Linked DNA regions of Homo sapiens: all the other regions are linked to region 2. Evidence: fine-mapped expression QTL. A gene starts in region 2. Each other region holds a variant in brackets. All regions are shown on one strand. Distances are from middle to middle.

Evidence for each region. PIP is the estimated chance that this variant, and not a neighbour inherited with it, causes the effect. A credible set is the group of variants that fine-mapping cannot tell apart.
Region 1: its variant is the best candidate, but not a certain one, in a credible set for the expression of SDSL in whole blood (INTERVAL, PIP 0.73).
Region 3: its variant is the best candidate, but not a certain one, in a credible set for the expression of SDSL in whole blood (INTERVAL, PIP 0.76).

The regions. Positions count from the first base shown.
Region 1 is chr12:113,346,825-113,349,584 of GRCh38, forward strand. No RefSeq gene overlaps it. Among named protein-coding and RNA genes, the nearest start is that of PLBD2, 10 kb to the right of the region's middle. The variant A/C (reference allele first, on the strand shown) is at 1,122.
Region 2 is chr12:113,421,182-113,423,941 of GRCh38, forward strand. SDSL (serine dehydratase like) reads left to right here and starts at 1,199. Exons shown (of 8, transcript NM_001304993.2): 1 at 1,199-1,296.
Region 3 is chr12:113,361,802-113,364,561 of GRCh38, forward strand. All of the region lies in intron 1 of PLBD2 (phospholipase B domain containing 2), which reads left to right. Among named protein-coding and RNA genes, the nearest start is that of PLBD2, 4.6 kb to the left of the region's middle. RefSeq lists an enhancer at 1,910-2,410. The variant T/C (reference allele first, on the strand shown) is at 1,348.

The DNA.
Region 1 (2,760 bases), 74 kb before region 2:
GGGGGTGGTTCCCCCATACTGTTCTCATGATAGTGAGTGAGTTCTCATGGGACCTGATGGTTTTATAAGTGTTTGGTAGATCCTCCTGCATTCATTTCTCCTTCCTGCCACCCTGTGAAGAGGTGCCTTCTGCCATGATTGTAAGTTTCCTGAGGCCTCCCCAGCCATGCCGAACTGCGAGTCAATTAAACCTCTTTTCTTTATAAATTACTCAGTCTCTGGCAGTTCTTTATAACAGTATGAAAATGGACTAATACAGGGTGCTTTCTGCCTGGGGAGCTCTATCTTTTCAGCCTGCCTGGTGGCCTTGGATGGTAGGGACCTCAAAAACTGGCTGGAAGTGGGGGGTGGCCCCTGGACAGGGGCTGGGGAAAGGAGGTAGACAGACCAAGATACTGAGATGTGAAGTCTGCCCTTTGTCTGTGACTGCAAGCATGCTGAAGGTCTAAGGAGGTGGCACTAGGGGCCAGTGTGGAGAGGCTTTCATTTCTTCCAGGCTCAGCGAGGGAAGGTCGCTTTCCTAAGGTCACACAGCCAGCAAATAGTGGAGCTGGATTTAGAACTCAATTCTGTCTGACTCCACAACTCCATGCTCCTGCTGAAGTCAAAATAAAAATACAGTGATGACTCTCTAAATTTAGCGTTTTATTTGGGAAGGAAGAATTACAATATGGGGCATACACATAGATTGGGTGGTTTTCAGTATGTTTGAAGAACAAAGAGCAGGTTGGATGTTTTATAAAAAGGAGAAAGGGGCTGGTCATGGTGGCTCATGCCTGTAATCTCAGTGCTATGGAAGGCCTAGGCAGGAGGATCATTTGAGCCCAGGAGTTTGAGACTAGCCTGATCAACACAGTGAGAACCCACTCTACCAAAAATAAAAATAAAAATTAGCCAGGCATTGTGGCGCATGCCAGTAGTCTCAGCTATTTGGGAGGCTGAAGCAGGAGGATCGCTTGTGTCCAGGAGGTTGAGGCTGCAGTAAGCTACGATCACACCACTGCAGTTCAACCTGGGCAACAGAGCAAGGCCCCGTCTCAAAAAAAACCGAAACGTATTGTCTTGAAAAAAAGTTCATTGGCACTAGCAAAGTTTTGGGGAGCTGGAAGCTGTGATTGGTG[A/C]GTCACAGGGGTGGGTAAAGCTACTCTTAGAGTTGCAGCAGGGTGTTTCAGTAGCTATGAGATAAAACTAGTCTTAGGGTAACAACAGGCAGTTTCAGCAGCTGGGCTTCTGCAAAATTTAATTCTTGGAGCAGGTGCCATGTGCTCTGAGTGCCTTCTCTGCCTGGATATGACAAGAATGACTCACTTTGTATATAATCAACTGTCACACTCCTAACCATCACCCCACACCGCTGCCTGGTGAAAACGCTGATTGCCCTTGCTTCTGGCTGGTGATTTATTTTTTATTTGTAATTTTTTTTTTTTTTTTTTTTTTTTGGAGAAACACAGTCTCATCATCTTGCCCAGGCTGGTCCTGAACTCCTGGGCTCAAGTGATCCTCCCGCCTCAACCTCCCAAAGTGCTGAGATTCCAGGCACAGAGCCATTGTGTCCAGCCTGTTTGGTAAATTTTTTTTTTTTTTTTTTTCTGAGACAATCTCTCTCTCTTGCTCAGGCTGGAATACAGTGGCACAATCTTGGCTCACTGCAACCTCCATTTCCCAGGTTCAAGCCATTCTCATGTCTCAGCCTCCCGAGTAGCTGGGATTACAGGTGACTGCCACTACGCTTGGCTAATTTTGGTATTTTTAGTAGAGACAGGGTTTCACCATGTTGGCCAGGCTGGTCTCGAACTCCTGACCTCAAGTGATCCGCCTGCCTCGGCCTCGCAGAGTGCTGGGATTACAGGCATGAGCCCCTGCAGCTGGCCAGAAAATAATTTAAGTCTTGATCGTCAAATGTGGGAGCAATGCAGCTCTTGACCATCAGCACAGCTGAGGACCGCTGTGTGTCCCTTGTCTGGGGGACTCTGGTTTCCTTTCACCCTCCAGGAGAGGCTGAGGAAGGAATGATTTCTGGGGAGCTTCTAGCAGTGCAGGGGTCACCAGGCCAGCTGGGTCGGCTGGGATTTGCCTCAGCAGTCCTCAGATCGCAGCCTGTCCTCTGCCCAGCTGTGACTCCCCAGTGTCCCTGGCCATCTCCAGAGGCCTCCACCTACTCCTTCAAGGCCGGGCCCCTCCCTCCTTCCCTTGCTCCCTCTGTTCCTGACCTCCAGGGACACAGACGCCTACCCAACCTTGCCCAACACTTGGTCCTGATCTTGTCCCGCCCCAGCTGTCAGTTATCAGGCCTCAGAGGAGGGGACAACACCTCACACCCCAAAACCCCAGCTGCCTGCTCTTCCCCAGCTTTCATTCGTGAGTGTGCAGGAGGGGACGGGGAGGGAAGGAATTATGTCAATATCGTGAAAGAAAATGAGGCAGCTACAACTAAGGCTTTCTAAAGTGGGAGTCGGGAGACCGTGGGAGGATCGCACTCACACCGGCTGAAGGTCAAATCGCAGAATGTGCCAGTCGGTTTGGCTAACAATTGAAGTCAGAATCCACCGCCTTCAACCTCTCTTAGCTGGGAGTACCCTAATGAACTAACCAATCAGAATGGGCTTGCGATAGAGGATTTCCGCCCAGCCAATGAACTGCCTCCGAAACAACTTTTTGTGGAAATCCCTTATAAAAAACCTCTCCTGCCCTTGCCTTACGGGATGCTATTCAGGGCTGCCCTGAATAGTCCTATCTGATTCAGTGTACGCGAGTCGTAGT
Region 2 (2,760 bases):
TGCCCACATCTCCAGCCTCAACCCCACTTGCTTCCCCACCCCTGCCTTCTCCCTCCCAGCCCCACTGGATACTACCCTGACCCTGGAATATATCATGTTTTTCATTTCCAGACCTTTGCACTCCCTGTGCCTGACTCCTGGCTCCACTCAGACTTCCCCTCCTCCAGGAAGCCTCCCCAGCCCCCCAGGGCCAGGCGGGGTGCCTGCTCTGGGTTCCACAGCCCTGCCCCACCCTGCCAGCTGCTAACATCTGATAGCACTAATAAGTGCTCTCTAATGGCCCTCTCTAAGGGCTTTGTGAAGGCAGAGGACATGCTATTTTGTTTGAGGCCAAAGTTCCAGGGATTGGCACATAGTAGGTGTCCAATAAACATTTAATGAATGAATGAATGGTCAGTCATTCATCTGAGTAGCAAATAATTGCTTGGGTTCTCATGCTGCGTGTAAAATATCCGAGACGGAGAGGTGCTTCAGACAAAAATATACCTTTCCCATGTCACAAATAATAATTATAATAATTGTTTCCTTGGCCAGGTGCAGTGGCTCACGCCTGTAATCCCAGCACTTTGGGAGGCAGAGGCAAGCAGATCACCTGAGGACAGGAGTTCGAGACTGGCCTGGCCAACATGGTCAAACCCTGTCCCTACTAAAAATACAAAAATTAGCTGGCGTGGTGGTGGGTGCCTGTAAACCTGGCTACTTGGGAGGCTGAAGTGGGAGAATCGCTTGAATCCAGGAGGCGGAGGTAACAGTGAGCCGAGATCGCACCATTGCACTCCAGCCTGGGGGACAAGAATGAAACTGTGTCTCAAAAAAAAAAAGTTCCCTTGTCCTTGTTTTCCCATCCCAGACCTAAGCTGACCCCAACAGTGGTTCAGCATCCGGGACAATCACTAGACCTAAAATGAGAAGACATGGAGATGCCTGCATCCCGGAAGAGATGGCCCAGGGCCAGGGGTAAAGGCTGTCTCTGCCCCTTGCTGTCTGGGAAGCTTTGGCCAAATAAGTTCCCTTTTCTGAGTTTCAGTTTGCTCATCTGTCAAATGAGACAGGGTGGTGCATGAGTCATAGGCAGTGCCCGGGAAAGCGGTGAGGGTTGCTCTCATCCCCTCTCCTCCTCCGTCTTCACCCGGAGGCTTAGGGTCTGGAGCTTTCTCTTTAACAAAGGAGGAGGGACCAAGGTTGCCGGAAGCTGCCTGAAGCTGGACAGAGCCGGTTCCTGGAAAGAGCTGGTTCCCTGGCAGGCTGGAGGGCAGGAGCTGGGGCCACGCTGGTCTGGGATAGTTGGGCAGGGAGGTAAGGGGTCTGGGGCCAGCTGGGGCCCCTGGGGCTCAGTGTGTGTGTGAATGAGAGGCTGATGAGAGGCTGCAGGAGTTTGGGAGGCTTTGGGCAAAGTCCAAGCTGAGCAGGTGGGAGTGAGAGGGCCTGAGCGTGTTCTAGGCCCTCCTGGGAATGTCGATTGAATTCAGGGTGCCCTGCAGAAGAAAGTGTTGTGCTGGGGACCCTGAAGGGCGAGAGTGGGTTCTGCCTGCCAGAGGGGCAGGGTTGGGCATTCTGCCAGCCAAGGGGCCAGCCCGAGGTGTCCCAGCCCTGGCACCAGGGATTTGGCTGTGGAGTGCCACCAAGGTGGCCTCTGGGGAAAGGCTTTGGGGACAAGTGAGGTGGACAGCACTGGTGGTCCTTACCTCAACTCATAGATGTGACAGGTAAGGCCCAGTGACAAAAGTGACTTGGCCAAGGTTGGCATGACTGGGACCTGAGCCTGAGCCCCCTGCTTTCCCCTGGGTTATTCCACAGCAGGGAGACCCAGGTCCCCCATTTCAGCCCTGGTGGCTGCCATACGGGACAAGAGGTGTGTGTCCCTGGGCCAAGACAGCTCAGTCCCAGACCTCAGGTGCCTGATGGGGTCTGGGGTTGATAAGGCTGTTGGCAACTTGGGGCTTTTTCATTTAACTGATGCCTGCTGTCCTCTTGTGAGTCAGTATAACCAAGAGGGCTGGGGAAGCCTGGAAACTGAGCCAGGAGCATTTGGTTCCAAAGGACAATTGGCAATAAATATTAAATGCATGCAGCTTTCATAATAGTAACGATAACACTAGTATATTAGAGAAAGTATAGCATCGCGGTTAATAGCACAGATGCCAAAGACACTGCCTGGTGTGAATTCTGGCTATGCTGTTTCTAACTGTGTGAACTTGGATAAGTTACTTAATCTCTCTGGACCTCAGGTTCACTGTTTATAAAATGGAGTCAATGGTGAGTTAATGACTCATCTGTTGTGAGCCAACAGGTGGCTCACACCTGTTATCCTAGTGTTTTGAGAGGCAGAGACAAGAGATTTACCTGAGGCCAGGAGTTCAAGACCAGCCTGGACAACTCAGCAAAACTGCATCTCTATAAAAATTAAAATATCAGCCGGATACAGTGGTGCATGTCTACAGTTCCAGCTACTCAGGAAGCTGAGGTGGGAGGATTGCTTGAGCCCGGGACTTCAAGGTTACAGTGAGCCATGATCGTGCCACTGCACTCCAGCCCAGGCAACAGAGTGAGACCTTGTCTCTAAAACAAACACCAAAAAAACAAGAAAGCGGAAGGATTATGGAGTAGGGGGAGTTCATCCTGACAATCCCAGGATCCCCAGGGGAAAAATCTGGGGATTTCACCAAAAAGGAAGAGAGACCCAATTCCAAGTGGACAGACACCCAACATGGGTGCCCTTACCATGCAGGCTCATTGAATCCTCACAATAGTCCTGCCATG
Region 3 (2,760 bases), 59 kb before region 2:
CAACCTTACTTTGTCTTCCTTCCCTGATCTGATCCCACTGACCAGCACCTTATCGACGAGGTTGCTTAAAGTAAATCACCATCCCGTTGAGAGAGGAAGTGAATCAAAGTTAGAGGGAATTAACAAATTTAGTAAACGGGGAAGCATCCCAAATCCACCAACCAACAGGCAAAAACAGCCCAGTAAAATGGATAAATAAGGCCCAGCTGTTTCTTTGAACAATCACAGGAGATGAATCTATACCATCAAGAATGAGAAAGGAGGACAGGCGCTGTAGCTCATGCCTGTAATCCCAATGTTTTGGGAGACCGAGGCAGGAGGATGGCGAGGGGCCAGGATTTCGAGACCAGCTTGGGCAATGTGGTGAAACCCTGTCTCTGCAAAAAAAAAGTAAAAAATTAGCTGGGTGTGGTTGCGCATGCCTGTGGTCCCAGCTACTCGTTTGAGCCTGGGAAGTCGAGGCTGCAGTCAGCTGTGATTGTGCCACTGCACTCCAGCCTGGGCAACAGAGTGAGACCCTGTCTCAAATAAAAAAAAAAAAAGGCTGAGATAGGAGTGATAGACACAGTTATGGGGGGCATCCCACATAATGGAGAGCATCCAAGGCCATACTAGACTGCGGAAGTGGGGTGCTGATATTTGTGAGATATTTGTGGCCCCCTGCTCATATCAGTGGTCTGACTTTTTCCAATGTGGCCTCTTTCAAGAGGCACCTTGATTAGACTCTTGAGTCATCTTAGAGACATTAGCTGCCCCTGGCATGAAATTGCAATTTGGCCCATAGATTTTCCAGGAAAAAAAAAAAAAGATTGAGGAAACAGACCTACTGCTGCCAACTTTTAATTTTTGTCAAGCAAGTGCATTAAAAACAAAGGAGAGCAATATTTGTCAACCCCTGTCAGCGTTTATCTCATAAAAGATTGGCAATTTTAGAGCAAACAAGCAGAAAGGACATACTCTCTGAATAAGGAGTAATCTTCTTTTGATTTATTTTTTTTTTTTGAGATAGAGTCTGCTCTGTTACCCAGGCTGGAGTGCAGTGGCATGATCTTGGCTCATTGCAACCTCCGCCTCCTGGGTTCAAGTGATCTTCCTGCCTCAGCCTCCCTAGTAGCTGGGATTACAGGTGTGAGCCACTATACCCAGCTAATTTTTTTTTTTTTTTTGTAATTTTAATAGAGATGGGGTTTCACCATGTTGGCCAGGCTGGTCTTGAACTCCTGACGTCAGGTGATCTGCCCACCTCAGCCTCCCAAAGTGCTGGGATTACAGGTGTGAGCTATTGTGCCTGGCCGAAGAGTAGTCTTTAATAAGCACATCTAGTTATAGACACACTCTAAAGTGTTT[T/C]TCTGGCCGGGCGCTGTGGCTTGTGCCTGTAATGCCAGCACTTTGGGAGGCCGAGGCAGGAGGATTGCTTGAGCCCAGGAGTTTGAGACCAGCCTGGGCAACATGGTGAGACCCTATCTCTGCAAAAAATATAAAAAACTAGCTGGGCACGGTGGTGCGTGCCTGTAGTTCCAGCTACTCAGAAGCTGAGACGGGAGGACTGCTTGAGTCCAGGTGAGGCTACACTGAGCTGTGATCACGCCAGTGCACTCCAGCCTGGGTGACAGAGTGAGACCCTATCTCAAACAAAACAAAACAAAACAAATTTCTAGCAGTTTAGAAAGAGGGGATGGGATATGGGAAGTAAAAGCCTCCCCCTACCATTCTTCCTAGATATAAACATTTTTAGCTTTTTTTTTTTTTTTTTTTGAGGTGGAGTCTCGCCCTGTTGCCCAGGCTGGAGTCAGTGGCGCGATTTCGGGTCGCTGCAAGCTCCGCCTCCCGGGTTCACGCCATTCTCCTGCCTCAGCCTCCCGAGTAGCTGGGACTACAGGTGCCCGCCCCCACGCCCGGCTAATTTTTTGTATTTTTAGTAGAGACGGGGTTTCACCATGTTAGCCAAGATGGTCTCGATCTCCTGACCTCATGATCCACCCGCCTCAGCCTCCCAGAGTGTTGGGATTACAGGCGTGAGCCACTGCACCCGGACTTTTAGCTCTTTCTTCCAGAATTTTCTATGCATAAAGAGGCCTAAACCTTCTTGCATACATATAAATGTAGAGGCATATGTGGTGTGTGATGCATTTACACAGGGGCTTAGTTCGTGCCTACCATTTGGACTTCTCGACTTTTTTTTGAACTTCATCTCTGACCTCTTTGCTCATCAGCACATGCAGTCCGCTATGGCATGTGTGATTATTGTATCAGGCCCCTAATGATGGGTGTTTCGGGAAGGCCCGTCTTTTCTGGCTTTGAAGAGAAGTCCTGCTGTGAAGAAGGGCCTTTATGCCCATCTCTGCAGGGCTGTATGAGCATCCGGCCAGGGAATGGGTTCCTAACCACTGCCCGTCTCCGGGGCCTCAGTGCCGAGGCCTTGGCTGAGCCCACCCTTGCTAGAAGGGGTAGCTCTCACCAGGTGTGCCCTGGAGGAGGCCACTGGCCGCTCAGTTACTACTGGGGCTCGCGGCTGCACAGCTTTTTTGGTTTTACGCAGTTTGTCCGAGGTCTCCTTTGATCCACTGCCAGCTTTTATCACGAGGGGATCTGCATATTGGGCCCTGTTATAATCTTCCTCCCATCATCACACTCGCCGGGTCTCCTCAAACTCCTACCCCCTCAGATTCTTTTTTTTTTTTTAATGAGACAGCATCTTGCTCTATTGTCTGGACTGGAGTACAGTGGTGTGATCATAGCTCACTGCAGCCTGGGCTCAAG